Regions from separate parts of the Homo sapiens genome. Here all the other regions are linked to region 3. Evidence: fine-mapped expression QTL. A gene starts in region 3. Each other region holds a variant in brackets. All regions are shown on one strand. Distances are from middle to middle. Region 1 overlaps RUNX2 (RUNX family transcription factor 2). Region 2 has its middle 4.1 kb from the start of RUNX2-AS1. Region 3 holds the start of RUNX2 (RUNX family transcription factor 2). Region 4 overlaps RUNX2 (RUNX family transcription factor 2).

What was found. PIP is the estimated chance that this variant, and not a neighbour inherited with it, causes the effect. A credible set is the group of variants that fine-mapping cannot tell apart.
Region 1: its variant is the best candidate, but not a certain one, in a credible set for the expression of RUNX2 in whole blood (INTERVAL, PIP 0.74).
Region 2: its variant is the best candidate, but not a certain one, in a credible set for the expression of RUNX2 in whole blood (INTERVAL, PIP 0.73).
Region 4: its variant is the best candidate, but not a certain one, in a credible set for the expression of RUNX2 in whole blood (INTERVAL, PIP 0.73).

What each region holds. Positions count from the first base shown.
Region 1 is chr6:45,542,461-45,549,958 of GRCh38, reverse strand. It overlaps RUNX2 (RUNX family transcription factor 2), which reads right to left. Exons shown (of 9, transcript NM_001024630.4): 8 at 4,677-4,742; 9 at 1-3,132. The coding sequence ends at 2,654. Among named protein-coding and RNA genes, the nearest start is that of RUNX2-AS1, 31 kb to the left of the region's middle. The variant A/C (reference allele first, on the strand shown) is at 2,055.
Region 2 is chr6:45,577,121-45,584,687 of GRCh38, reverse strand. No RefSeq gene overlaps it. Among named protein-coding and RNA genes, the nearest start is that of RUNX2-AS1, 4.1 kb to the right of the region's middle. The variant A/GAAA (reference allele first, on the strand shown) is at 3,277.
Region 3 is chr6:45,324,531-45,332,097 of GRCh38, reverse strand. RUNX2 (RUNX family transcription factor 2) reads right to left here and starts at 3,768. Exons shown (of 9, transcript NM_001024630.4): 1 at 3,638-3,768; 2 at 3,314-3,437. The coding sequence starts at 3,371. All of the region lies in intron 2 of SUPT3H (SPT3 homolog, SAGA and STAGA complex component), which reads left to right. RefSeq lists an enhancer at 3,999-4,039, a promoter at 3,446-4,086 and a cis regulatory region at 5,044-5,050.
Region 4 is chr6:45,433,142-45,440,708 of GRCh38, reverse strand. It overlaps RUNX2 (RUNX family transcription factor 2), which reads right to left. Exons shown (of 9, transcript NM_001024630.4): 5 at 2,658-2,762. Among named protein-coding and RNA genes, the nearest start is that of SUPT3H, 59 kb to the right of the region's middle. The variant T/C (reference allele first, on the strand shown) is at 3,918.

The sequences.
Region 1 (7,498 bases), 220 kb before region 3:
CAGAATTTGTTCTAAGAAATGTGAATTACCCCCATTGGGGTGGTTGGAGTGAGGGTGGAGGGAAGAAGTGCTTGAATTTTTCCCAAGGAAAAAAAGCTTCTAAAGTGTTTCTGGGTTGCTGCCTGCAGCCACTATAGTAACATTTCAACACAAAAGCATCCCTAAAGTCACTCGGTATGTGTACTGTAAACTTAAAAAAGCCCTTTTAACATTAAAAAATAATGTACAAATATAGTACCTTTTTAATTAAATAGGATGCAGCTGGCACTGGCGGTAGCATTTTTATGTCAATTAATTAAAATTGAAATGTGTAACCAGACACTGGCTTTTTTAAGTGCTGCTGAAACAAACACACATATTTTACACTTACAAATAAATGGACAGTGGTGTGCTTCAAGCTACCACACACAAACAATAAATAGTATCAATTACTACTTCCTTCTTACTTAAGTAATAGAAAAGTGGCTTATTTATCTAAGCATACTTGGTATACGGCCTTTAGAAGGCAAAGTGTTTTGCTTTCCCATCCATTTTTATTAGAAGGAGTCAGGATGAATTCCAAGGGAGACTCCCAGGCAGGAAGCACAGGTCCAGCTGCCCCACACGCTGTCCTGCAATGCTGGGTGGCCTACAAAGGTGGGTTTGAGAAGGACCAGAGAACAAGGGGGCCGTTAGGGTTTGAAGGCAAATCTCTGCTAAATTCTGCTTGGGTGGGTGGAGGATTCCAATGAAGGGACCCTGACTTTTCGGGGAGGAGAGCAGGGATTGGCCTGGTGGTGTCATTAGATGATCCTTGTTTGGATTAAGGATTTGCACTTGGAAATCTGCCATGTGACTGCCAGGAGTGGTCAAAGTGCATGCCACAGAAGGACTCTAGCTCAAATTCATACACACTAGTAGACACCAAACTCCACAGCCCCTTGCCCTCCTTGGCCCTCCATTGTAAGAAATACAAATGTCAAAGGCTGTCTGTAGGTCCCCGTGGGCCATATGTCCTCTCAGCTCAGCTACCTGCTGGAACCTGCTGCCTTTTCAGAGGACCTACTCCCAAAGGACAGTGATGTCATTCTGCTCCTCTAAATGCAAATTCTGTGGAAAGCTGCCAGTGGGGCCTTGGGTAAGGCAGATTGGGGTTCCCCTGTTGTGTTGTTTGGTAAGGCTGGTTGGTTAAGAATCTCTGGTGCAATTTTGCTCTCCTGTACTAGGTGTCTCATAATTGAACCCTCTATCCACATGTGCGGCTTTTAGCTGACTATGTCTTTGCTATGAAGCCTGGCGATTTAGAGTTTTGCTTAACTATGAAACCACAGAACATTTTTCTGTAGTTCAATGATTTACTTGTGCTTGTCTTTTTAATATGACAAGAGTCATAATTACCCCAAAGAAATTAGAAAACCACATCACTCCAGCATTTCATGCTGATAAAGGGCTAAAGGTTGTTTTTTAAATCCCTAATTACCGCTTTAGAAGGCAAAGCTGTGTTAGAGGCATTCAAAGATCTGAAAGAACTAAACATAACATTTCCTTCATACATCACAAAAACAATCTATATCTAAAATATTTGGAGATGGAAGTATTTTTTAAAATCACATTGTGCCTGGATGAACTGAAATTGCTTAGCAATATTTCAGATATGGCTCTAGACCACTGAAGAAATTTGTTATTTAATAAAGAGCACTTTTAGAGACCGAAGTCAACATATCAATACACTAAGAAATGTTTCAAGGGTCCAAATGTCATTAAATAATTATAAATATATCTTTAAAGTTATATGACCATTCACGTTAGCAAGTTACCTCAGATTTTACACATATTCATAATTTAAAAAAAAAGAAAACAACACATAGCCAAACGCAATCACTATCTATACCATTATGGCTATAATAATGTATTGCCATTTTCAGTTTTGCATAAAAGGAGAAGGCAGGTTTTAGGGATGGGATTTCTTTTTGGTTCAGTGGGAAAAGGGGAGAAGGAGTGTTAAAAAGTAAAATAAAATAATCTATCCTGATCAGTTATTTTTGAAGTCACTTTCTTGGAGCAGGAAAAAAAAA[A/C]AAAAAAACGAACCCAACAGTTCAGATGAGGACCTGCAGCATGTCTGAAAGCAGAAATTGGAAGAGTTATTCTGAATGATGGTACTGTGATGGAAGCATCCATTCTACCTCATGTCCCTTTAGTGCACCTCAACTGGTTTTGTGAGCTGTCTGCGGAGGGCACTGGTCCATACACAGCTGCCACCGTGAGGGTGTGAAGTTTCAAAGCACAGAGAGGAAGCGGCTTTGCTCTTCTCCCTCCTGAACCTGGAGTCCACCTCTCTGAATTGGCATATGAACAGGTTATTGATGATAACAGACCAAACAACAAAAACAAAAATACCTTTTCCCTTCTTTGTTCCTTTGTAAAAGTACATCTTAAATAGTAAACAATCTGAAGCTCGATTGCAATTGTCTCTCTTGAGCCTTCTGCTTCTCAATATCTACCCTCTTATGGCTGCAAGATCATGACTGAGTGAGTGAATGAAAAATCTTCTAAAAAATAGGCACTTTGTAGATAGCTAATCGATATACATATATATGCACTCTCTCTATATATGTATATATTGATACGTGTGGGATGTGGCCCCCAGATACCACTGGGCCACTGCTGAGGAATTTCAATATGGTCGCCAAACAGATTCATCCATTCTGCCACTAGAATTCAAAACAGTTGGGGAACTGCTGTGGCTTCCATCAGCGTCAACACCATCATTCTGGTTAGGCAAATTTGGATTTAATAGCGTGCTGCCATTCGAGGTGGTGGTGCATGGCGGAAGCATTCTGGAAGGAGACCGGTCTCCCCCCGGCACCATGGGAAACTGATAGGATCCTGACGAAGTGCCATAGTAGAGATATGGAGTGCTGCTGGTCTGGAAGGGTCCACTCTGGCTTTGGGAAGAGCCGGGGTAGGGTGGTGGCAGGTAGGTGTGGTAGTGAGTGGTGGCGGACATACCGAGGGACATGCCTGAGGTGACTGGCGGGGTGTAAGTAAAGGTGGCTGGATAGTGCATTCGTGGGTTGGAGAAGCGGCTCTCAGTGAGGGATGAAATGCTTGGGAACTGCCTGGGGTCTGAAAAAGGGCCCAGTTCTGAAGCACCTAAAAATTATAACAGAAGATGGAGGGAAAAATCTGTAAATATCAATTAAAATAATGATAGAATTGTTACAAGAAAAAAAAAGAGAAAACTTTAGCTTTCCCATAAAGGAACAGCAAGCCACAGACAGACCTTCAAATGCACCAGTCACTTTACAGTCTTTTTCCCCCACTTTGCAGTCTTAACAGCATTGATCCTTAAGTTCTTCACCCCCAGAGAATCCCAGAGGGCTTTAAAAACCCACATGTGTGCCAGGTCAATGTGTAAACCAACCCAACACTCTGATCACATAGGTTCACTCACCAGACTTTAAAACCAAATCCTCATGGATTTTTTTTCTCTTTTTGCTTCTCGTTGCACTTTAGATATTTGAAGTGAAATTTTTACTAAGTCAGACAAGTTTATTTTCCTCAACTCAATATAAAGAAATTCCAAAATAATGTCTTACTGTTATTTACTCTTGGTAGGCTCTTTCATCAATGAAGGAACATCAAAAAGATATCCTATCATGTTCCTATCATTTCCTTTAAGGCCTTTAAAGAATTTAAAATCTTGTCAGAGGTCTCATCTTAGCAACAGTGAAATCAAACCAGAAACTCATAACTTCTCTGGGGGTGGATAGGGAGGGTCATAAGCTACTAGATCAGTCGGTTTTGAAAATGGGAGTTAGGAGGCACAAGGGGGCTTGGTACCTTAGGAATCATTGATTTCAAGTCTTGATGGGAGACTTGTGACCTGATTTAGACCAGGTGCTAACAGTAGCTTTTGCGAGAGGCTCGCTGCCTAGGGGAGATTAAGAGGAGGGCACTCCCCACCCGTCTCCCAGGCCCCAGCACCACATCCTACAGAACCAGCTTCAGGTCAACTTGAAGCAGTAACCTGAAGGCAAAGATGGTTTTCCCCTAAAACATGAAGTCCTTTCACTTCTAAAGCTAACAGTAGGCCTCCTTAATAGATGTTTCTGGTGCCTAAGTTATGAAACCACCGTTATAAACCATTTCATGTGGAAATTTGTTTTCTGAAATGCTAGAATCTTGTAGTTGTGACCTTTAAAGATTGGGTTTATTATTATTTTTCTAGAATTGACAGAATTGTGACAAGCCCTTTTCTAATACCAGTGCTCTTGTTAAGATATTGTTCCCTTCTAAAATATTTTGATTATTCAGATCTCATATATTTGTTTCTCCTACAGCTTTTAGCTATAAAGGAAAGCACTAAACAATTCTTGAGGACTTTAATGAATGGGTACTTCTTCACCTCATTTTTATTCAGACCTTGTTCTTGGATATTACGATGTTTATTAAGGGAATAATCCGAACACTTTTCTTTAAAGGTGCTGATTGAAGGTTATTAATTTTTGTTAAAATGCACACTGCTTATAATCTTCACAAAATGCAAGGGTTAAGTGCCATGATGTGCATTTGTAATAAAAAGTGACTCTTTAAAAGCAACATATAGTTAACAAAACTCACAAATCGGACAGTAACAACCAGACAGCCCAGCCCAGCCCAGCCCTGCCCAGCCCAGCAATTGTTAAAAGTCTCACCTGCCTGGCTCTTCTTACTGAGAGTGGAAGGCCAGAGGCAGAAGTCAGAGGTGGCAGTGTCATCATCTGTAAAATGAGGGGGATGAGCTCTAAGTTCCCTTCCAGCTCTAATGTTCTATGACTATGAATTCCAAGAGAGAAGGAGAAGCAACAGCCTTAGGGGAGGGGTAGACAGAGAGGTTCCCATCCCTCATTAGTATTTCCCAGAGTCTGCAGGCCCATAAGCAGAGGGTAAAAGCTAGTGAGCAGCTTCTAAGGCCAGAAGCAAACACTTTCAAGATGAAGAACCAAAACTGACAGCCCAGGCAGTCACTCTCTGCTTTTTATAAATTCTTCCATCCTCAACTAGCCTCTACCTATTCCTCCCAAAAACGAAATTCTGACAAGCTTAAATTTAAAAATGTGGAAACAGCGATTATGACAGAATCAGAAATGGGAGCAGATGCTCCATAACATTTCCCCCGCCCAGTGCTTGTGCCCTGCCTCGTACAATACAGAGGCCAAATGGAGGCCACAGACGTTCCTCAGGCAGCCTCTGCATTGCAGGGCATCCAGGTGACCTTGAGCTGGCAGAACTAACAGCGATGGGCAGGGCACTTCTGTATGCATTAAGTTCAATATTTAGATCATATAAGAAGAACCAGAATAATGTGAACAGCGTGTATCAGAAAGAAGTCGCACTTAAAACGCCAACGTGTGCCCCCTGCAGAAGTATGGAGTTCACACAGATAGACATGTTAATGTAAAAACTGCTTCTTAGGTGTATCTGTACTTAAAATACACTGCAGTAATAATTACAATTCCGTATGGTTTCACTTATTTTGATGCAGAAGCCTCATTAAAACTCTTTATGTGGGGCCCTGGCAGTAAACTCCAATATGGTTTTGAATTTACCCCTCCCCACTCCTTCCTCTCAATTTTACCTGATACATTTTGCTGATGTTTTTATTGCCCATCACATGCCAGGATCACTGTACCTTTTTGGTTTATAGATGCTAGCTAACACAAAATGACATTTGTTTTTCAATTAATGAGCTCTGGTTATGGTTTATAGAAAACAATGCAACAAATTTCCGCTAGGTTTACAGTATTTTAACCAATCACTTCTAGGCATTTGAGTCTTAATGTCTTGAGAATGGACTCTTTCTTGATAAAGAGCGCTAATGTTGACTTGAAAGGGATTATAGGATGATTTTTCAACTTACAAACAATAGAATTTTCTGGAATTTGCTTAGTCACTTTATGTTACCAAGAAATGTTCCTGAAACATTTTGCAACATGTTCTCTAGGAAGAAATAGTAACAATTTGCTCTAGTACCATACGAGATCCCTTATAAAATAATCATGATAAGGTGGTGGGAGAAATCCTAAACTTAAAAGAAAGACTATAAACTCCTTCCTAATCTTCAAATTTTTAAATAATAATAGTTACAGAAGCAAATAATATCCTTAAATTTTCTTTCATTGAATAAGGTTGTGTCTGTGCTTCCAATGTCTGTTTTGTACATGAACTCAGGTTTTCTTTTAGAACCCCTGCTTGGGCTATTTTGACATTGTATCCTAAACTAGTCATCCTTGTGTCACCAACCACATTGTAGCCACAAACTTACCAACATAGAACTAACTGGATGTTACATCAACTAAAGTAAGCAAAATATAAGTTTGACTTATTAAGAGTCCATATTATGAAGGCCTAGAGTTCTAAAAGCAGTGCAACCCCAATCTGATTTTCTAAATATAAAACCAAAGCTCAGCCACTCCCCCAGTGATATGCCTGGTACGCTCAGAGCTCCCAAGAGCCAGTTTAAAACTCATGACTACAACTTACTGGATAGATAAAGCCAAAGGTGGTTTGGGGACCTTTTTAAAATAGCAAGGAACAACTTGCACAAGTCCATTCTTTTTGCTGTTATCCATGTTATCTCCTCCATATACAAAGTACATTCGGCTATTAGGCTTTGCTGAACAGTGGAGAAGTTGAGAGTGCTATAGCCAACACTAGATCACTTGGTGCGAAGAGTTTCAAAATGGTATGTGCCTACATCTTCCTGGGGGACTGCCAGGAGTTACTAGAAGCCCAAGATAATCATCGTGCATTTTCCTGATGGGTTGGTTTTACTCAACTTGGGGAAAATAATACACTATACAATAAACATGAATATGATGTGGAGGAGAGTGCAACATTTATGTGAATTTTTAGATAAATAAAAAATGACTTCAACAAAATTTTGCTCTTGTAAAGCTTTAGGCTATGATCCGAGATCCCCCAAGGTACTCAAATACTCCTTTATGCTGGTTGAGGAACTCTGATGGAAAAGTCTAAACTCTTAATTTGCTGCTTAGGTAATGCAAATCTAACCCCTGTTTGACAAATAGGAAAGCTGGTATCTAGAGAAAAGAAGCCATTTACTCAATATCACAAAATCACAGCCACAGCTAGACAGACCTCTTTGACTTCTAACAAAGGATATGCTATCTTAGTTACCCTTAAGGAATTTGGTTAACATGATCACAGGTCTATCTACATACACATACACACCTGCTATCTTAGAAGTTGATTTGCCTAAATGAAAAATACTCAAAATATCTCAAAATACTTAAATTGACTCTTCTACTGCCTAAGTGTTGCCCCAGTGAGAGTTCCTATCTTTGGGATATTATTAATAACTCTTTTAGGCCTTGTTGATCTAATCTGCTAAATAATGGGCAATTAGTTTGGTTGCTCAGGGCAACATGTGAATGAGACCAAGGTCAAGGGTATGATCCCCTTAGGACCTGCTGGCTTCCTACAGATGCATTTCATTCCAAAACTGCTGTCTACA
Region 2 (7,567 bases), 250 kb before region 3:
GAAGTTTGGGAAACAATGACAGAACAGCCCCCATGCCACTGCTTTTGGCCTCCAGTTAGAGATGAGAGGCTCCAAAAGCCATGCTTTGAGCCTCATTCTAACTATCTCTAACATCACTGTCCTTTCCTAATATGTCCCATCAACAGAAATATGCCTTTGCTTCCAAGCCACTCCAAAGAGACCACTGCACTTCAGCCATTTCCTCCTTCGTGTACCAGTGCTGTACATTTCACCCCCTGCACTCCAGGCTGAGGGATATGGCCCAGTCCCCTGACAGGATCAAGTTGCTTCTTGAGTCTTCTTAGAAACACAACTATACCCTGTTTCTAGGTGTGGTCTACTTTTGCACATAGCTAACCCCACTCACAGGGTATCAATTCCAACTACTTCCTTCCTCAGGCAGCAATTTTGGCACCTTTTTTGTACCCACTCATGTTCCAACCACACACCCGAGATGAATGAGCATCTCATCAAGTTGGGGAGGCCAAAGCCACTGAAGGATTCTGTTTCTACTGTAGCTCTCATTACTGTTTCTCACATTAGAGCACATGTCACTCTGGGAATGCATCGCTGGATTAAAGAGTATTCTTTCACATAGTCATAATTATGGGTCCTAGAAGTCAGTGAACTAGGGAGTCCAGGGGATATGGATGAGAATAAAAGATGAGAATCATAGAATTTAGATGTACAAGTTCCCTAAAACTACACAGTCCCACTCTTCTGCTTTACCCATGAGGGGAATGAAGCTGGGAGAGGTTAGTTGACCTGCCCAAGGTCACATGCATCCCAGTCAGAAAACTACCATGTTCCCCTTTGGGCTTCTGAACCCAATTTGACCCTGGACCTCACTAAAAATTCTCTCCATGTCTTCTTTCTTCAATGGATAATTTAAAATAGAAATAATAATAAATATAACACCTCATTGTATATGTGTAGCACCTTTCTTCCAATAAGTGGTGTTCTTTCAGCTTGCCCACCCATGCTGCACAGAACGGAAGTGTTTCCACTATGGACTCTGGTGTTGGTTATTGACTGGAGCCCAACTTCTAGCCCACACACATACCACTATCAAAGATATAGCTCAGAGTACAGGCCCATGTCTGTTATTATTAACTACTCAAGGGGTAGTGTTTAAAAACAAAAGACCCTCCCCAACATAATACACATGAAAAATATGTTTAGAAAGCTTAAATCTTAACTATTTTAAAAATTAACTATTTTTGTTTTAATTGGATAGTTATTTGATTCTCCATGGAAGAACAGGCTCTTTTGTGTTGTTAGTAATAGGTTGTACTAATATTGATAGTAGAATAGTGGCAGCAGTAATAGTAACAATCATCATTTATTAAATGTCTACATGGAAGGCATTTATATCCAGTCTTTTATTTAATCCTCACAAAAATCTTAATGATATGTGTTTTTTCACCTTACTGAGGAAATAAATGAAAGTTCAGAGACATAATTTACCCAATATGCAAAAAAGTGAGGTCTTACCTTTTTGACAATAGAGTAGACATGATTTTAAGAAAAATCCCTCACTATACTAGGAAAAATATAAAAAAAATTTTAAATGTATGACAGATCTATCTAGAAAGTAATTCCTTGGGCCCCATGAATGATCAGAATGCCCAAATCCAGAGTCATCATCAAGTGATGGAGTCAGCATTTCCTGCACATGAGAGAAAAAAATCTGAAGCTCAAGGTGAGTGAAATATCAGAATGGAGACCCACAAATAAGCCAATATCATGGAAAGGCAACACTCCATTGACGGAGCTAAAAAAACATCTATCCCACAGAACAAGGTGGAGATACATGACTGGCTTGGTCTTGACTCTGAGTAGAAAAAAAAAAAAAAAACAAAGAAAGAAAAAGAAAAAGTTCCCCCTCCCTATTTCTAACTACAGATGTGTAGGTTTATAACTTTGGGCCTGAATATACACAACAAATGTGGCTAAAATAAAACTCTACAAAGTTAAATTGATTCCAAGTTGGTGATAAATGGAGCCTCAAAGAATTACTACATATTATTAAGTTACAAAGAAAATGAGCTCTGTAGAAAAAAAATCAGTAATAAAAAGTAAATAAACAACTCTGAGTGAAAGTCAGCAGAAACAATAAACTCTACAATCAGACCTTCAAAGACCACAGATACTGGAATTATTCAAATATAGAATATACAATTAGTATGTTTAATAGGTTTATAAATATGAGAGGAGATTGAAACTATGTGAAAGGTAAAAGAGACTATCAAAATTAGCCACATTTGAAAAGTACCAAACAGAAATTTAGAAATTAAAAATGTAATAAATGAAATAATTTAAATAAATAGGGTAAACATTAAAATCAATGAACTTTAATACTGAAGAGATTACACAGAATCTAGTAGTAAAAAAAGCAATGAGAAATGTGAAAAATGGTGAGAAAATGTAAAGAATAATTTGAGAATGTTTTATAGGAAGCAATAAAGAGAATGGGGAGAAGCAATATTAAAAGAGATAATAGCTAAGAATTGTCCAGAGTTAATGAAAGACACCAGTGCACAAATTGAGAAAGCCTAGAGAATACCGAAGAAATCCCTGCCTAGATATACCATAGTGAAGCTGCAGAACAACAAAGACAAAGAGACCTTAAAAGCAATCAGAGAGAACAGGTAGATTGTCTGAAAAAGAATGATCAGGTCATAGCTGAGCTCTCAAGACCAGCAGGGAAAATTGAATGACTTCAGATCAACCAACTAATGTCAAATAGCTATCTAGAATTCTAAACAAAGAAAGCTATCTTTCCTTTAAAAAAAAAAAAAAAGAGGGATGGTCAAAGAAACACAATTTCAAACTATCACAAATTGAGAGACTTTATTAACAGAATATTGTCATTGTAGAAACATCTAAAGGACATTCATTTTAGAAAGAAATCATCCCAGAAGGTAGATCTGCATTGCAAGTGAGTCAATGACAAAGATAAAAGTAAACATGTGGATAAATCTAAACAAACACTTATATGTACCAAACAACAATGTCTAATTTATGAATCTTTAAAAATCAAGAGATAATTAAAATCTGGATAACTTCATGTAAAATTTAGAGATGAATACTTAGATTTCAAGAGTTCTTTGTTTCTTGTATTGTTCAGAAAAAGCTTATATTAATTAGCTTTCAATTAAATTATGTTAAAGTTGCATATTAAAATTTTTAGGGTGGAATAGAGGGGAAAAATGGAATTCAGAGTTGAGTGAATAAAACCAATCAATCCAAAACAAGGAAGCAAAGGAGAAAAAA[A/GAAA]AAACATATAGAAAAAAAGGTAAATATTACTATAAAGTACAAAATAAGATGGTAGAAATGAATCTAAACAGTTTGGCTATTACAAATGATATAAATGGCCTAAACTCTCCACTTAAAAGAATGACAATCAGACAAGCGCCTGACCTGGAGGGAGTTGTTAGTCCAAGTTGAGAAGTGGGGAAAAGGTTCAAAAGGTAACCCAAGCAGCACCAAGTCACATAGTGCTTTCAAAGTTTAGCTGAGGCCTTTGACTTCAAAGCTGTGCTGTTGAAGCATGGAGCAGGAGATTGCTGCTTTTCATTGTAAGACTTCTTATTATTGTTTGAATGAACTTTCATTTAGCATATTGATGAATTACAAGGATAAAATATTTAAAGTTAACAAAGAAGAAAAAATAGGGAACAATTCTTTGGTTTGAATATATATATTTTTATATATGCACACACACACACACATACTGTTATGCATTGTTTAACAATGTGGATATGTTCTAACAAATGCATCATTAGGTGATTTCTTCATTGTGTGAACATCATAGAGTGTACTTACACAAACCTAGATGGACTAGCCTACTACACATCTAAGCTATATGGCATAGCCTATTGCTCCTAGGCTACAGACATATATGGCATGTTATTGTACTAAATACTACAGGAAATTATAGCATAAAGGTAAGTATTTGTGTATCTAAACATAGAAAAGATAATGTGTTGCACTATGACGTTATCATGGCTAAGACCTCACTAGGTGATAGAAATTCTTTAGCTCCATTGTAACCTTAGGGGACCACTGTTGTATATGCAGTTCTTCATTGACTAAAACATCATTTTGCAGTGCATGACTGTGTGTGTGTGTGTGTGTATGTGTGTGTGTGTGTATATATATATATATGTATGTATGTATGCATATATATGAGATAGTTTCCTTTATATATTTATGTATTGTTTGAATTTGGGACAATAAGTAAGTTTACTTTTTTACAATTAACAACAACAACAAAAAACTCGGGCTGTGGTGACTCACGCCTATAATCTCAACACTGGTGAGAGGATTGCTTGAGGCCAGGAGTTCAAAACCATCCTGGGCAACATAGCAAAACCTATTGGTGTGGTGGTGCATGCCCATAATCTCAGCTTCTTAGGAGGCTGAGGCGGGAGGATCACTTGAGCCCAAGAGTTTAAGTCTGCAGTGAGCTGTAATCACACCAATGTACTGCAGCCTAAGACACAGAGTGAGACCCTGTCTTAAAAAAAAAAAAAAATCTTAAAAATAGGCAATGGGATACTGTAGATTTTTTAGTCAGGAAGGGCTTGAGAATAAAATATTATGTGGGAAGTAGAGAACAAGATGGATTTAGAGATCAAGAGACAAAAACTAGAACCAGAGAAACAAATCAAAACAACTAAAATAATTGTCTGGGACAGTGTCATAAATGCAAGATAGAAGGAATGGATAAATCTAAAAGAAGCAACAGAACTTCTTCACTATTCTTGTTCTTGCAGGTCAGTCATAGGAAGAACAATTGAGTGAAACTGAAGGAAGAGGCAAAAGTGACTTAATGATGATAACAGTGCCTGCTCTACTCTGCTTCTGCAGAAGACTCACTTACTGGACATTCTGGAGCATTCATACAGAATAGTGAACCCCTCCCCGATATCTTCCATATCTTCCCTTGCTAGGCATAACAGAGGATGAAGCACCACTACGGTCTTGAGAGCCTCCTAAAACACAAGTCAATTTGATTAGAATGAAAAAAAATCCTCTTTTGCATGTCCTCCAAGGACCCTCCCTAATTCCAGTCCACAACATTAGAGGCTCTGGACCTTCAGATAAATTGTTGGAAGGGATGGAGAAGTACTCCAACCATGCCATGGGTTCTCGAATGGGGCTGCCAAGTGTACCCTCTGTGCCCTAGACCAGGAACTTCCTGGAGTCACATTGTCCAGTGGTTAGATACAAGATCTTAAGCAACCAAAAGGCAAGGAATCAGTTACCTGGAAATGGAGGCAACTTTATAATCATTTTCACAACCTGTAGAATGGTATCCAAACTGGCCATTCCCTAGGCCTTCTAGAGCTCCACTTGTGTGGCCTACGTAAGTCACTTAGCCTCTCTGAGATTTAGTTTCCTCATCTGTAAAATGGGGATGGCAGTAACAGACTTCTAAAGGTTTGTTGGGTGGCTTCAATGGGATGATAATATAGAAATTACCTGGCACAGTGATTGGCCAATCTAATAATTCAATACTTATTTTTAAAAATTAATTTTGTAAAAAGTGAAGATAAAGAAAACCCTTCCATTTCTGTAGAAATGCTAGTGGAAATGTAAAGGAAAGAAGAGAGAGAGAAAAAATAGAGGAGAAGTAGAATCAATAGGACTGAAGAGAGGGGATGAAAGAAATGGAATCTTCAGGAATTAGAATGTTAAAGCCTGGCCTATTATGGAAATTACTTTATCAGTGATCAAAATAAAGATGTCAGAAGGGAAAGACTTGTCTCTGCAGTGAAGCTGTAAGATCTTGAAGGCAAGAAATGTGCTCCCTTGTGCTCACTGCATTGAGCATAGGTCAAACATTTTAGTTCTAAAAAACAAAATATTTGCTGCATAAATAATGAATAATGAATATGTGCTGCATAAATCATTGAAGAGTGGATGAACAAGTGGGAGAAAGGGAAAAGGAGAAAGAAAAAGAGATGGGAGAGAAAGGGAAGGAAAGAGAGAGAACAAACCATAATGTGACGCAGGTACTGTCTCCTGGAGCTGGGAAAGCAGCTCCTCCACATGGAGGAGGCCACCACTGTGGCGTCTTCCACCCCTTTGGTCTCTTCTCAAGCAAGATGGGATTCTGAACCTTGAGGCTACCTGCATATTATCAACCAGAATCCTTTACGAGTAGCCAGCACTGTTCTTGAGCTTCTTCTGTGCTCCTTCATAGCATTTCCCAAGGTCTGAGCTCTGAGAAACAACCAGAGAGCTAGAAGTGTGCCTAAAGAAATGCGGCCTTCACTGGCTTTGCTGGTTACAGGTACTCAGACACGACCAGCCCTGAAGCTTTTGTGCCTGCGCTGCTCCAGACTTAGCTTCCACAGGAAGCCCGTCCGTTCCCATGGCATTAGCCGACTTCCACTCTACTCTCACTGGTAAGGACAGTGGTAGTTAATAACCTTGTATACAGAGTCAGGAAATGGAAGGAGTTATTTATTTTCCCTGAAGACAGTTTGTTCTTTTGATAAACTACAGTTTTATATAATTTTATTAATGCCAATAGTAAATTGTGTTTTCTCATGACTAAGCTTCCTCCTCCCACCCTCCCAACCCCCTTTAGACTTTGGCTATAAATAGAAAGCTCTTTGTTCTGTCTCCTCTGGGCAATAATTACAAACATAAACTGGGGAGAAGCCCTCATGTCTTTCCACATCTCTTGGTTATTTCTCCACAAGTAGGCAGTCACACAAACAAACAGCCTGCTCTGTTTGTGTTTTCTCTGCAGTCACAATTCTTCCACTGAATGTTTATGCATTCCAGCATCTCGAGAACTTCAGGACCGAGATAGATGGTATCTTAATATGCGTTTGAACATGTGCACTTAATGTGCTTGGTTAATTGGAGTAATTAGTAGTCTTTTCATTCCAAGGCCGTTGCTGAAATTAAAACGGGGCTGTTATTTCTTTTAATGGACTAACTGAAGAATTATTATTTTGAAAGTGAATCAAGACTGAAGGATGCGAAGTTCTGTGCTCCAAAAGAGGAGGAAGGGACTGGAATTCTAAGGATCTGAACATCTTTGGGGAAAGTTCCCAGCCTCATTTACTCCCTCCAGATATCACAATACCCAGGGTGATATAATTTATTACCCAACCCAGGACACTTTTGAGAATAAAATGGGGCCTGTTTACTGATTTCATCGGGATAACTGTCCTAAACAGAGTGTTCCAGCAAACCGGAGTATGAGCACTCTACCAACACTTCACGTGGGTATAGCTGTATACACAGGGGACTAGCCATTTGATACCATCTGTTTCTCACACACATCCATGAGGGAAGAATCATTCCCATTTAACAGACAATGTAACTGGGGCTGAATATAGCTCAGCGACTTGCCCCAGGCCCACCAGGAAGTGGATAAAGCCGTGCTCAACCCAGCACTTCTTCAAAGCCTTATTCTTTGTCTGCCACACTGACCCGCGCTGATTCCTTCTGGTCAGCCAAGAATGGCACAGGAGTGGGCTGGTAACATGTGAGCATGTGCAGCTGAACTGGAAGGTGGCCAGGAGCTGAAGTAGCAGAGGGC
Region 3 (7,567 bases):
ATTGATTAGCGCTGCTTTAAAGTATTGGAGTACAGTGAGTTTTGATTTGTGAATGGTTCTATTCAATAAATATTAATTCTGTGTGTTTGATAAAATCTTAGTGCCTTCAATGAGTTAGCTCCCCCCGCCCCTGCAGTTTATTTAACCATCAAATATTTCAGTGTTCTTTTAACAAACTGGAACATTTCTATCTTACCGAATTTAACTTTAGCATGACTGATTTAAACAAGTCAAACTATCAGTTGTTAGCTGGAAGAGAGTAATTGAATAAATTAATATTTTGTTCTTTTAAGATAACTAAAATATATCATAATGTAATCATGTATATTTCATGCCTTGTGATATAGAGACGGATTGATCAGGAGAGTCAGACAGACCAGCCAGATCTTTTTCCACAATTTCTTTTCAGTGTTTTAGATTTCAAAACATTTTTTAAAAATAAAAACTAAAAATCTTTAACAGTTTGTAATGTAAAATTAGGATTATTATAATTTAAAATAATTTATATGAGTCTTTGGGAATTACTTTGACATTTTTAGCTTTTGATATGTGTTAGAGTGATTTTCTGTGTTTGTTCTTAACTTTGTAATTCTGCTCCCTAGTTTTGGAATTTAGCTCTGTATTTTAAAAAGAAGCTATAAAACTTTGTCACTACTGAATCTTGAAACTATAAATATATTATTGATATGGACCACAATTGCTGTTTTGGAAATCAGTGTTCACACATCATGTTCAAGCAGTTACAAAGATTTTATGTAGATAATCAGTCAGCTGATATATTTTCATGAGTCATTAATTTTAAGATACTCTATGAGTCACATCTGTGATTTTCAGCAAGCTATATTTATGATAAATGATGGACAGATTTTGAGTAGTACAGATTGAAAATTTTTGATTAACTCAAAGTGAAGTATGCTGAGAGATCAAGGACACAGACATACTCTTTCTCTAGCATGTGCGCGCGCGCGCGCACACACACACACACACACACACCACTCATTGTATTTGAGGTGAAGCAGTTGTTAATGTGTGCTTTGTACCTCACCTAGGAAAATCCTAAACTTTCTTTTTAACTATTTTACAAAATTGGGGCACATACTTAAGACATTTCATTAGGTGGTGGTGATAATCATTATATAAAAATCTAAAGCCTGAAGTGAGGTTTTAGGCTTTGCATAGATTATAGAATGGGGAAATGTTTGCAATGTGATAACATATACATGATGTCCACTACTCACCTGTAATTAGTCTGAGGTAGTGGGTTGATGTTAAGTTCTCTATTCAGGCTTCAAGATACTGTTTGGGGGCTGGCGGGGAGGGAAGGTGCAGCCCACTTTTCAAAAGAGGAAGAACTGGTTGTAATGTTGGAAAAAAAAAAGGTTCACTACCATGCCTTGCTTAGAATCCTGTCAAGTTTTGGAAATTTTGAATAGTTATTAAGAATGTTACAGAAGTATAAGATCCCTGTTATGATAGAATAAGAAGCAGTTTAATATATTCTTTGTGAGAATTTTAACATATTCTTCATGATAACTTTACTTCTAATACTGAAGAATTTTTTGAAACTTGTGTTGTTCCTGATCTGGTTTTTAAAATGTGTTTAAAATAAATAGTTAAACAGAGTGATAACGTGAAAGAGTAACTTAACTGCCTCTGTTATCCCTCCCTGATATCTCTGTTATCCCTGTTTCAAGTTATCCCTCTGTGTAACAGTAGTTTTAACTATTCTTTTTCCTTTTATCTCTTGGGTAGTAGTAACAAAACTTTCGATGTATAAGCTGTAATTATGCTATGTGTTGTAATGTAGTCTAGCTGTGTTTATGTCCTGCTTCCTTAATATAGAAGTTTTTAGAGTAATACTTGGTACCCATCATTAAAATTTTAAATTAATCTGTGATTATTATATTGTATATATTATAACTGAGGGGGCCCACTTACAGCTATTGAGGGAGTCACTAAAGCAATTTTACATTTTTTTTTGTAAAATACAAAGTACATTTCCTCACCCTGTAAGAGAAACCATTTTTTCTCCCTTCAGGTTTAATTATTTCTGTTTGACCTAAACTGAGACTGATCCTCTAGTAGTATCCAGTTAAAATGTGTGAAGTAGGAGGAGTAAAGGAAACTCCAGTCATTAGTTGTAAGTTAAAAGCAGAGTTAATATAGATGTACACAGCAAGAAGGTTTATTTTAATGGATATAAGAAAAATTTTTGAAAACTTGCCTTGTAGTTGGAACATGTTGGAGATCATAAAGAGAATCTTGTAAGTGTGTTTAGATATTTTGCTATAATAACACATCAGCTGATGAATGTTAAAGTCATTTACATATCTGTATCAACAGTAACTTGAAATTAAATATTAAGGGACAAGATTATGCCTACTTCTTTTAAAGTCCAGCATGGTTTAATAGTTGTGGCTTTTAAAAATCATACAGGGTATCCTTATGGAGCTTTATTTTTCATGAGACTAAACAGCAGTTATTCATTTTGGTAGGTCCAAGAATGTGATTAAAAGAATCTTAGACGTTTCAGTGTTTCAGTGTGTTTATAACAAGGTCTATGGATAACAGTGTGTAGATGTAAAATTAAAATTACATAGAAAAATGCAGTTGCATGTAAGTTTTAAAATACTTCCATGAACTTTTTAATATCCTGGGCAACTATAAAGATCTTTTAAAAATGGCTGTGATGTGCTTATCATAATTTTATTTCAGCTGAATGTATACTTATATAAAGTTGTTTAGAAACAAACTTATTTAGATAGGATACAGTTTGAATTTATAAGTAGATTTCTTTTAGTTGAGCTGGTTAAAATGTTAACTGTACTACAGGTTTATTTCTGTGTTATACATGGTAGACCATAATGTTGAGATAATTCTGTGGTCTGTTATTTTGTAAAATTGCTTCCTTTTTGAAGTTTGCTCAAATATTGGGAGCTGCCGGAGTCAATAATTTATAATGCTTTGATTAATTTAGGATCTGACTTTTCTTCTGGTGAGGGTTAATGAGAGTATTAAACTGTTTCTTTTACTGTTTTCATATCCTCACCTCTATAACTCTAGAAAACATTTTGATCAATGTGAGATAATTTAATTTTGTATATTTCAAGTCATTACTTTGAAAATTAGATACATTACAGATACCAAATGCAAATATATACAGAAATTTCATTTTTCAATTCTTAATGCAACAAGATAGCATAATTAGGATCTTTAATATGCTATTTGGAAAAGCTAGCAGTTTATCAAAGAATCATACCTTTATGTTTAACAGGTTCATATCTTACAGGATTTTAAAAATGGTAACACTTACCCCAAAAGAAGTTTTGCTGACATGGTGTCACTGTGCTGAAGAGGCTGTTTGATGCCATAGTCCCTCCTTTTTTTTTCAGATAGAACTTGTACCCTCTGTTGTAAATACTGCTTGCAGCCTTAAACTGAAAATACAAACCATACCCAAACCTTGTTTTAGTTTTACAGTATGCCTGGAGTACATAGACTTTATATTTATTTTTTTCTGTCAAGAAATTATGTAGCTGGTAACATGTGAAAAGCAAAGAAACAAAACAAAAAGAGAATGAGCAAATATTTGAAGGACCTACTATTACTGCATAGACTGTGGTTAGAGAGCACTCACTGACTCTGTTGGTCTCGGTGGCTGGTAGTGACCTGCGGAGATTAACCATTTAAAAACCAGAGACTTCTTGCTGTCCTCCTGGAGAAAGTTTGCACCGCACTTGTGGTTCTGTGGTTGTTTGTGAGGCGAATGAAGCATTCACACAATCCAAAAAAGCAAAAGCTTTAAAACTCCTTTTTTTTGCAAGCACTATTACTGGAGAGGCAGAATCATGTGGTTTGTGACCTCACAGTACTCTTAAGTAAAGTGGGACTGCCTACCACTGTGGCTTTTCCCCCTTGCTCTTTCTCTCTCTCTCTTTCTCTCACAAAAGGCTTGTGGTAAGGCCTTTCCTGGCATCCAGAAGGATATAGCTTTTTAATTTTTGTGACTCATGAGGATTTGGATAGAATACAAATGCTGAAGGAGCCCAAACTCCTGTAAGGTTAAGCATTTGTAGAGCAGAGCTCTGCAGTTAAGGGCTTTCCTTTCTACTCCCCGCTCAACCTCTGCCTTTTTGCCTCCTCTTTTTAGTTCATTATTGTGTCTGTGGAAAAATGAACAAAATTGGCTCAAGAGTCTGTGTGAAATTCTGAACAACAGTGATGATATACAATAATTCACATCTTTGGACTGTATCACATTCTGGGGTCTGCTTCATATTTGCTGGGTGGCTGGATTCCTTCTGTTTTCCTTTTTCTTGTCTTCTTAAACTTGTGAATCTGTAACTCATTGTAAAAAAAAAAAAAGTTTACCTTAAGGTCTGGTTGCAAACTGCTTGCTAGGCTTGACTATAATTGGCTGTCATGAAAGTGTTAGTCTGGGCATTCTTTTACAAATTTTAAATCACGTCTGTCTAGTTTATTATCAATCTATTAGATGGCGGCCTTTACAATAAAGATTAAATGTAATGTTTCATGTATACCATTATCTCATGCCTAGTTTGAAGATCTTAAAAAAATGAATGACAGGGATTGTAATATAGTTTATTGGATGAATCTTAGTTTTCTTTATGATTGTAATATTTTTTGTCTTTCATTGAAGTGTATTCAGTTTATATAGTTCTTTAAGTAGTTTAGACATTAATAGAGTTTCTGATAGCAGATCTTCTATAAAGTAAAATGCTTATGTTATAATGTAGATTGTTCAGTATTTGATTCTATGAGCTTAGAATAGAGTGGGTTAACAGAAGCTATGTATTTTTTTGTTTCTAATGGAAGCTTTGAAATAAATTACAAAATGCTGTGTGTAGTAAGGAATAATGCCCACAGACAGAGTATGTTAGTCGTCTCGATTTGCTAATTCTGATTCAGAAGAAAATTGGAAACATCTTTGGGAAACTATCTCCTTTTTTGCCCCTTTGGACAAGTATGTATAGAACTCATTTTCTTATTAGGATGATTATATATCATAGGCAGTGAATTTTATATTTATGAATAGAGCTTCCTGTTTTCATCAGTTGGGAGCGATGGAGTATTTTTCAACCAAAATTATAAAGGCGAACAGACCAATTTTCTAGGCATTTTTTTGCCATTTATCCATGCCACTCTAAATCTGCATGTTAGACTTCTTCCTAGTGTGACAGTAACTAGGAGTGGCATAAAGTAAATGGGGTGGGCGGAGACAGTGAATTACAAAAGATTATTTGGAATGTGCAGGGAGGTAAGGGCTAGGGAGACAGGAGGGTGTTAGAACTAAAATATCCCTGTGTTCTTCCTAGTGCTATTCATTATCTGCTTTTGGTTCATATTAGATCACAATAACTGTACAAATATGTTCATAAGTTTCTTTACAGAAAATTTGATTTTCCCAAAATACACTGGTAGGGTATGGGAATGATTCTAGTCCTTTATTTTTCAAATGTCCAGAACCTTTTCAGAATAAACTTTTAGTGATAAAAAACCAGAAATACATTTTGGTGTTTTATTTTAACTATGGATTTATCATGCCTTATTGTATGTGTAAACAGATTTTACATTGAAAGGTAAAAGCGTTCATTTAACATGCAGTTATTCATGTGAAGGAGAGAAAAATTATTTTTTCTCTTTTATAAATAAGTCGTATCCATATTATCTGTATCTCTAATTAGTATCCAAAGTAAACAAAAGGAGGGTTTTGTCCTTATAGCTTGTGGGATTTCCAAACATGGTTTCATGTGTACCTATAATAGCAGAATCACTTAATTGAAAATATGTAGGTAGCTGCTGTAGTATGATCAGCAAATGGTTTTCTTCTTTTCAAATAAGCTTATAGTTTCTACATTAGCATTCACTGAAACATCTTACAAACCCAACATTTTGCTATTTTCTTCCTTAAAATCTTCTTTATGTAAACTTTGGCTCTTCAAATTGACCTGATAAGAATTTAAGTAATTTTTAACATCTATTTGTCATTTAATTACCTGTTCACTTTTTGCAGGTAATCCTCCTGCATGTAATTTTTGGACCAGGATTTGAGAGTTTAGTAGATATTGTTATATATGCACTTTTTGTCCTCTGTGAGGCCTATCAAATTCTAGCAGGAGAAAGATAGTGAAATCATGTGCTTTAAGTTAGTATATTCATTATCCACATGAATTTTTTTCCTAAAACGAAAATATATCCTCTTTGGAGCAAATATTACTTTGTTGTAAAAATTTAAAAAACAATGACAACTGGGGCACATTTGATAATTGGTACACATTTGATAACAGTGTGTTTCATTAGAAATAGCTTACTACACGTGGTGAAGAGATACTGATTTAGAAAAGTCAATGCAAATAAAGCTCTTGATTATAGATTTATACCATGGTTATAATCAGAAATTGAAAACCACAGATTTATTTTTATTTTTATTTTTGCTTTTTAAAGACCCATAAAATTTTATCCTCTCTGGGGACATGTTAGTATTTGCTGTTTTGAAGTAAGCAACAAGTTTAGGTATACTGTATAAATCACATACTTTAATGCCATGGAAATGAAATACAGTTTTGATCTTGAAATCAATTTCAAAGAAAAAAAGTTGTTGGTATCTTGCTTCTCCATTGCTTTGTAGTGAATAAAATGTGTTAGAATTGGTTGAACTTTTGAAAATACCAAGGTATTTGTGTTTAAATGCTATGTGTGTCTTCATTGTAACCATTTGAGTAATTTTTTATTTTCTTAACTAATGATCATATTTTAATACATTAGTTTTACTTTATCAATATTGTGCTCATTTCTATGCATTTTTTTAAGGATTATTTTAGACTTATTTGCTGCTAACTCTATTCTTTTATTTGCTGCTCATTCTTTGAAAAACAAAGGAGAAAATGGTTTGATGCAGGAATTTTTAAACTTTAGAAGTCCTAATTTGGCTTAAAATGTTCTGATTATGAGGTTTTACGAAGGAAGTTTTTAACTTATTGTTTCATCTTGGTATGTGACTGTTTCTTATTTTACTTTTTTTTGACAATTTTTCTTTTTTTTGGATTTGATGTATAGCTGTTTAAGCTTACACGGGATCTATTTGGCCTTATATTGACTACTTCTGTTAGTAAAATATGTATAGTTTCATCTGTTAAATTATGGTGACTGTGCAGTATTCCATTTCCTTGTTTAATGGGGTATATGTTTATGTACACAACTGCATGCACATTTGTCTTATTGCGTATGTATACAAGGCATTGTTTTGTAGTACTTTTTGTAATAAGAGCATTTTTCTCAGTTTATTTTAATTAGATCAGGTAAAAACCCAAACTAGCACCATTTCCCTGATTGTTTGAACAACTTCATTTGATTAGTTTTAGCAGCTGTCTAAATGTGAGATTATGTGGAATGCCAGAAGAGAAAATGCTAAGTCAATCTCTCCTGCCTTCCCTCCCTCCCTCTCCCTATCTCTCTCTCTCTACCAATCTCTCTCCCTCTACCTGTCTCCCCCATTCCTCCTCTTTCCCTTTCTTTCTCCTTCAGGCTTTTTTGGGTTCTCTTCCTT
Region 4 (7,567 bases), 110 kb before region 3:
TCATCACCAAGGTATCTCATTATATACGCAAATATTCCAAAAATTAAAAAAAAAAATTGAAATCCGAAACACTTCTGGTCCCAAGCATTTTGGATAAGGGATACTCAACCTGTATAGCCATGACCATGAATGTATGTATTTGCTTATGCTGCTTTTGAGCTACAATGGCAGAGTTGAGTGGTTGTGACAGAGACCACCATACGGCCCACAGAGTCTAAAGGATTTGCTATCTGGCACTCCGTAGAAAACGTGTGCCAGTCTGTGTTCTAGAGGATCTCCCATTTAACATTATATGCACCAACTAATCAAACTCCTATTATACTCACTGTTTAAGAAAATTGGAAATATTGTGCATTTCCCACACCTGGGAGTGTCAAAATTAAAGAACCATATTGAGAAGAGGGCTATGCTACAAATATTCAATGCCCAGGATGGCCAAGAACAGGGAGGAAAAAAATAATCCAGCACAGAATCCAGGTTATAGGATTCAGCTGTCGCTCAAAGCAGACCCATGCTTCTCTCCAGACACTGACTTCGTCAAGTCACCCTATGATGTCAGGAAAATGACCCCGCATTTTCACCGATATTTTCAGTTAATAAGAAATGTTACTCAGGCTTATCTAGGGCAGGTGGCCTACCACTTGCAGATCTGTATCTGCTTCCACCGCCCACCCTGGGCACCACACAAAGCTTGAACTCAGGTCCCACGTATACCACCTGGCCCCTCTACTCCTAACTCTCACTGCTTTCAGAGCACTTCTCTGCCTTTACAAGGCAATTCTCTGCCTTTATAAATTAGTCTATTGACTAATTTGGACAAAAACCTCTCTGAAATAAGGTACTGCTATGCACACTTGAAACAGAAGTGACTTTTCCAAAGCTACCCTGCCTTCTCACTTATTGTCATATCGTTCAGAACAGGGAGCACCTATCCTTCCCTCTTTCCTCTCCCAGCCATCAACTTTTGAGCATCAACTCTTGTGTGTATGTACACATATACACACACAAACATACACACACACATACACACACACACACACGCACACAAACACACGCAAATGGTTTTTCCAAGAACTGAGAAAAGCAGCTGAGATCAGCAGGAAATATCTTTAAGAGATAAGTATTAGCGGTGCTACATTTTAAAAACCAACTATCCTGCTATGTGCATTACTAAAATGGACGTCCTGCCTTTTCAGGAATTCCGGGGCTAGTCTGACCAAAAGTTAGAAGACATCTTCCATCATAAGGCATCATCCCCAACTTATGGCTATCCAGAAAAGGCAGGCAAAGCCCCAAACCAGGCAAAGCTCTGTTCTATTCACCTGCACTCCATAACCACTAGCCCTTAGGACTAGAGACTTGGTGCTTACACACATGTGTACAGCAATCACCTAACAGGACATTCCCAAACTGAACAGACAGGGCCAGCACTGACTCAACATTATGAACCTGGAAGAATGCCACACACATGAAAGGAGAAGAAAACAAAAACCTCAAAGACTTGCTTTTGAGGCAGGAAACCTCCCTAGTTCAGGCAAGCAGTCAGCCTTTGTGAAAAGAGACAGCAGCAAAAGGGACGGGACCCACCATATGCTCCCACTGCTAGGAAGGTATGCTGCTTGGGTAGAGGCAAAACTTTATGAGACCTTTTCTCTCATTTTAGGGGAAGAAAAGATATGCCACTCTCATGGTCTATGCAGGTTGATTGTTATAGAACAAGTACTTCTGCCAGCTATGCCTCCACCACAAACCAAACTGACCTCCCTAAATGCAGTGGTTAGGATTCCAATGTATTCACTCAGCAAAGGCAGAGTTCTATATGATGTTTCCATTGGCACACAATTGTTAATGGTTTATATATCAAATAATCTTTAATCTCTAAATATATTCAAATACCGCTATGCTGAGTTTGTTCAAAGCAGTTTTTTGGTGGGGGTGGGGGAAGCAAACCTCGGTCATTTTAGATTTAGAAGGAACATACATATTGGCCCAAGTAGATTATGTGCGCTACCTGAAACTGATTGCCGGTGAAACCTTCTGGATGTCCAGACAGACAAATAAACCAAGATGGATTTAAACGTGGTTTGACTCTATCTGTTAAAAGAAAACTACCTATAACAATTACTAGAGCATGACCAAACAACAGTGTTGTAACAATCAAGCAAGTTATCATTTGCAAATAAATTCTTTGTAATTAAGCAGTGTGCTCTTCATAAAGGGAATTGAGTGGGCGAGTTAAAAAGCTAAAACACATTCTTAGGCCATGGGAAACACATGCCAGTGCTTTTTGACTAAGCTCAAGATTTTTAAGTTTGCTCTTTTCTTCCTCAGCTCTCATGGGTCTATTCTGCCCCATTATGTTCAGTACATGAGCAAAATTTCTTAGCAAATAGTTAACAGTGACTGAATAATTATTCACTCATTTCCCAAAGCTACGGAGGCCTTAGTGATTGTGTGGCAAAGGTTAAAACCGTAGTTTTATTTTCTACTAACTCTGAAGTTTGACTAACTCTCCCTCACTAAAAAAAATATATGCAGATAGCAAAGTCCACAAAGACACTATGGACATGAAAGTGACACTAACTCATTTGGAATAAATTCCTCATAGGGTCTCTGGAAACTCTATTACTTTCTTCAATAAAAAGGGGAGTACTTACTTCTGGGTTCCCGAGGTCCATCTACTGTAACTTTAATTGCTCTGTGATAGGTAGCTACTTGGGGAGGATTTGTGAAGACGGTTATGGTCAAGGTGAAACTCTTGCCTGCAGATATAAAAGGGGAAAATATACAGTGAATATTAAAAAACAGTGTTGATGATTACACAGCAGCATAGATTTCCAAATTGCATTTAAGCATCTCTAAGGAGGCAATGAAACAAAGACAAGAGGCAGGACTCCTTCTTCTAAATTGGAAACCCTCCGATGACCACTTTAGGACATTTCCAAATTTGCTTAGAGTCAAGATCATCGTCCTCATTGTAGTGCTACACAGGAAGACTCCAATTCCAAAAAAGCTCCTCAGTAGCAACAGTTGTAATGAAAACAAAACCCTGGTCCACTTGAGGAAGGTTCTTTTTCTTTCAGTTTTCTCCAACATCAGGAACACATCCAAGCACAGACAATTTTAGAAGTCTTTATTTAGGGTTGGGTCATGACCTCACGAGAGAACAATAGTAAATCATTGTTGATTATGTTATTTACTTCACATAGCTTTAGCATTTCATTTGCTTAGCTGCACTACAATAAGAAGATAAAAGAGGAAAGTTCTTATGGGAATCATTTTAACAGGAGCCAGTGTCTCCTGTCCTGGCCGTAATGTGCCTGTGGTATGATGATTTCATCATTACTGGAACAAAGTTTTTCTCCTCCCTGTCCACCCCTCCCCTAACATACATCCTTGCTGTTAAATCTTGAAATAACCCCCTGACAGCGACTTACTTTTTGCTAAATGAACATGACATCTCTCAGTATAAACTCAAATTTTGCTTTTAGCAGAAGGTGTGCTTCATTGAAATATTACATCTGATGCTTCAAATTAATGAGCTAAAAGCGACGAATAAGAAGGGGAAAAGAGACAGGGAAAAGTTTGGTAGCATATTTGGATGTCTGTTTTCTCCAGAAGAAGATACCATTCTCTGTTGCACAGACTTACTAACAGTTGTAATCAGTTAGATTTGCAACGGTTAATCATGTCAGATAGTCAAAACTGCAAACTGTTACAAGACAGGAAGAGGTGGGCGTGAAACAGTGACTCAATAAAACATTCAGCAATCTCAGGCCAGAGTACTCATTCAGTCTGCTCCTGTAACAGACCTTTAAAAAGCTCATTTTGTTTTGCTTTGTTTTTTGGTCAGAGATTCTTTTTCCCTTACTGAAAACTGAGAGTATTAAACCAAAACACAAATCTTTGACAATATG[T/C]ACCAATGCAAAGTTTAATGCAGTCTTTTCAAAGCTTAATATGGAACAGGTTATATACAAGGCTTAATGGAGAACAGGTCTTTGGCTGTCAAGTCTAGTGAATGGGTTTTCTTTTCAACCTAGACCATGTAAGTTCCTAAAATCTGTTTAAGACGCACATCATTTGTTACTGAGTATAAATAGTTTTAAGTCTCCTTGGCTATACTTTTCTATAGCCAAGGGGAAAAAAACAGGAAAGAAAAGACAGGAATGGGGTGGGTGCAGTTTGAATAGGGAAAGGTGAATAACAATTAGAAACGTATTAAGTGCCACTTCATACACATTATCTCAATTAATCCTCCCCGCTTAGATCTCTCACCCCCATTGCACAAATAAGGAGGCTGAAGCCTCAAGAGACTTAGTAATTTACCCAAGTTCATACAACTAATAAATGAAAAAATGAAGATCTGAACCTCATTTTTCAGACCCTAAAATTAATGCTCTTTTTTTTTTAAATATTCTGTCACTTGGCCACTTCCTTAAGTGGCTTGATCACTTGCCATTTAAAAAAATTAATAAGTAATTTATTTCTAGATGCGTCCCAATCAGCTCTATGTGCCCAAGAAACAGTAAACATAAATGGACTAATGCAATATCTCAGGATGATGAAAGCATCTATTTTTAAAGTGTCATTGATATATTTTATCCACTATATTGGCTATTACACGGATTTAAATAATTTATAATTGGTTAGCAAAGAGAGGCTTTATTATAAGCGTTAAGACTAACCAGAAGAATAAACCAGCCAGGAGTCTAAACTAGTTACAGAAAACTAAAAGCCTACAGAATTAGAAACCAGAAACTTGAATAGGAAGCCACTGGGTCCAAGTTAGAACCTCAAAACAATGGAAAGATCGCAAAAAGTAAAAGAGCTGAATCTCTAGATTGAAAGTTAATTTACACTAAAACATTTTAAAGTGCCATTTTGGGGTCAGATTAGTGGTCTATGGGCCCAGGATTGCCTTTCTAACAGTGGCTCCCATGGCTGTGTTTCAGAGTCAGTTTTCATCTATGGCACTCATCTTAATAAATCAAGGATATATACAGATCTCAGTTATCCTTAATGTCTCTAAATAACCTGGTAGAAAGATTGTCGGCTGGGCGCGGTGGCTCACGCCTGTAATCCCAACACTTTGGGAGGTGGAGGAGGGCAGATCGCCTGAGGTCAGGAGTTCAAGACTAGCCTGGCCAACCTGGTGAAACCCTGTCTCTACTAAAAATATAAAAATTAGCTGGGCGTGGTGACGCACGCCTGTAATCCCAGCTACTCAAGAGGCTGAGGCACAAGAATCACTTGAACTCAGGAGGCGGAGGTTATAGTGAGCCGAGATGGTGCCACCGCACTCCAGCCTGGGTGGCAGAGTGAGACTCCATCTCAAAAAAGAAAAAAAGATAAAATAGATTGTCCATAAATTTATTTAAACCAGTTTTGGTAACAGTTCTACTTGAGACCTTTACAACTTACTTAGGATATTAAAAGTCATCTATGCTTCCCCTAAATTCAGGGTGACGCCTCATGTAGGAACAAAAGCCAAAAATAAAATTCACCCTTCAAGTATAAAGCATTTAAATTTTCAGAGTAGAATGAGTTCTCTATAAAAAACTGCTTTTAAAAAGAGATGGGTTTGGGGGAGGAAACAAGTAGTTAAGTATAACTATGATCTGCCAAAATCAGACCCTAAGGATCAAGATGTAATTAACAACTACAGCAAAAGTGAATGAGGCTCCTTCTGCTTCTTATTGCCCCTTCAGAAGAAATATGTATGCAATGTTGAAGAAATTTTCAGAAATTACCAACCAATTTAGTAATTGGTTCTTCATCCTATAATAATAATGCACCTCTTAAGTCAAATGTTTATGTGGGCATTCATGATTTCCTTAAATTAATTTTTTCTCAAAAATCCCCTTTTTATCACTTTCCATAAGTGATAAAATACAGCCTGTTATTTTAAAATGTAGGCTCTCAAATAGGGAGCTAGCAGTCAGTAGATAACTAATTGTGTCATCCATGGCTTCATCAGGAAAAAGAAAGCATACCAAAAAAAAATTTAAGGACCAAAATCATTTTAAACACTTCTCTTTAAAAGATTAAGGATAAAAAAAAGGAAAAACCATGAAAAACCTTAAGCCTCTCCTAACTTAATGCAAGTTCCACTGATGCTCTACTTTTATTCTAGCACTTTCAAAAGTTGTGGTCATAAGATGACCCATAAAGTCAAAGTCAGTAGTGACATGACTCCTTTATAATCTAAGATTGTTTTTCAGTTTCTGAGAGTTTATGTTTCTACCAGTGGAAAGAAAAAAAAAAGTGCAATATTTGAGGAACTTGGTGTTTTTTTATAACACTACTGAAAATAGAAATATTTAAAGCCGGGAAAGAAAATACAATGGTAGCAGCATGTTGATCCAGACTTAATAGCTTAAGAGAAATGTAGAAGTGTGAAAATCAAAGAGGAAGCTGGAAGAGTCTGTTATAAAGCAGGTCAGGTACAAAGGGTACAAAGGCAGGTTAAAGGGTTTCCTGCCACTGAAAAACTGACCCATTTTTTTTTCAGAGTGTGATCTGTTATCAGTGTTCTCTGTCCTTTTTTCCTCTTCATCTCAGCTTGATATTACTGTTTCCTTTCATACAATGTTAATGCAGTGATATAAAAATATATTATTAGTGATAAATCAATTTTTCTTTCTCTCTCCACCCACTCCCCCTACCCCCCATCTAAGTCTTGAAGACAAGTCTGGACCAATTTCTCCATCCTGCCTCTGGCAGCAGACTGTAGCATTTCAGATCCTCCACCAAGTCCCGGCTGCTTCAAAGGAAAAATCCTACTTTCTTCAGTTAAGATCATAAGAAATATAGGGGGAGGGGGTCAGCTCTGTTTGGACATAATTACACTTCATCAAAAGAAGCTTTCTTCATCTTCCATGCGTGAAAAGTCTGCAAGCAGTTAAGTCTGTCTTTTTTTTTAAATATAAAAATTGCTATTTGGGAAACCAGCCAAAACTCAGAAAGCCAATATAGTAAAACAGTGCACACCCTTTGTTTCTCTTTGAAGTTTCTTAAATAAATATGTTGAGGGTTTACAAAGTACACTATCACTTTGCCATACTTTCTACTTAAATTGATCAGAAAAAAGTTATGCAGCATCTATATAATACAAAAGTAAGATAAATGAAAACACTAGTTTGAATCTGTAATGTAAAATTAAGCATGGCACCCAATCCTTTAAAAACTAAAATTCATTACTCTAGTTAAAAAAAAAAAGTATTATTACATAAGAAGAAAGATGCAATTCAGAGCATACAGGTAAATCATCATGTTCACATTTTTCTTGATTCTAACTAGAAAAAAAGGAAAACTTTAATTGCATAGTGGACCTGCATAAGTAAATGAGAAAAAGGAAGAATGAATACACACACACACATACTCCAAACCTAATCAGTCAATAGTGATATAGGATGTGTCTTTTTTTCTTCTTTTTATGAAAGTTAACTAAACCTGATGCAGAGATAACTCCCTTAGTTTTGATTCTACCGGAGGCTGTGAGCCTCATTTTATTTCAAACAACATGTCAGTGACAGTATCTCATTAGCATGAATCATTTTTTTTAAGT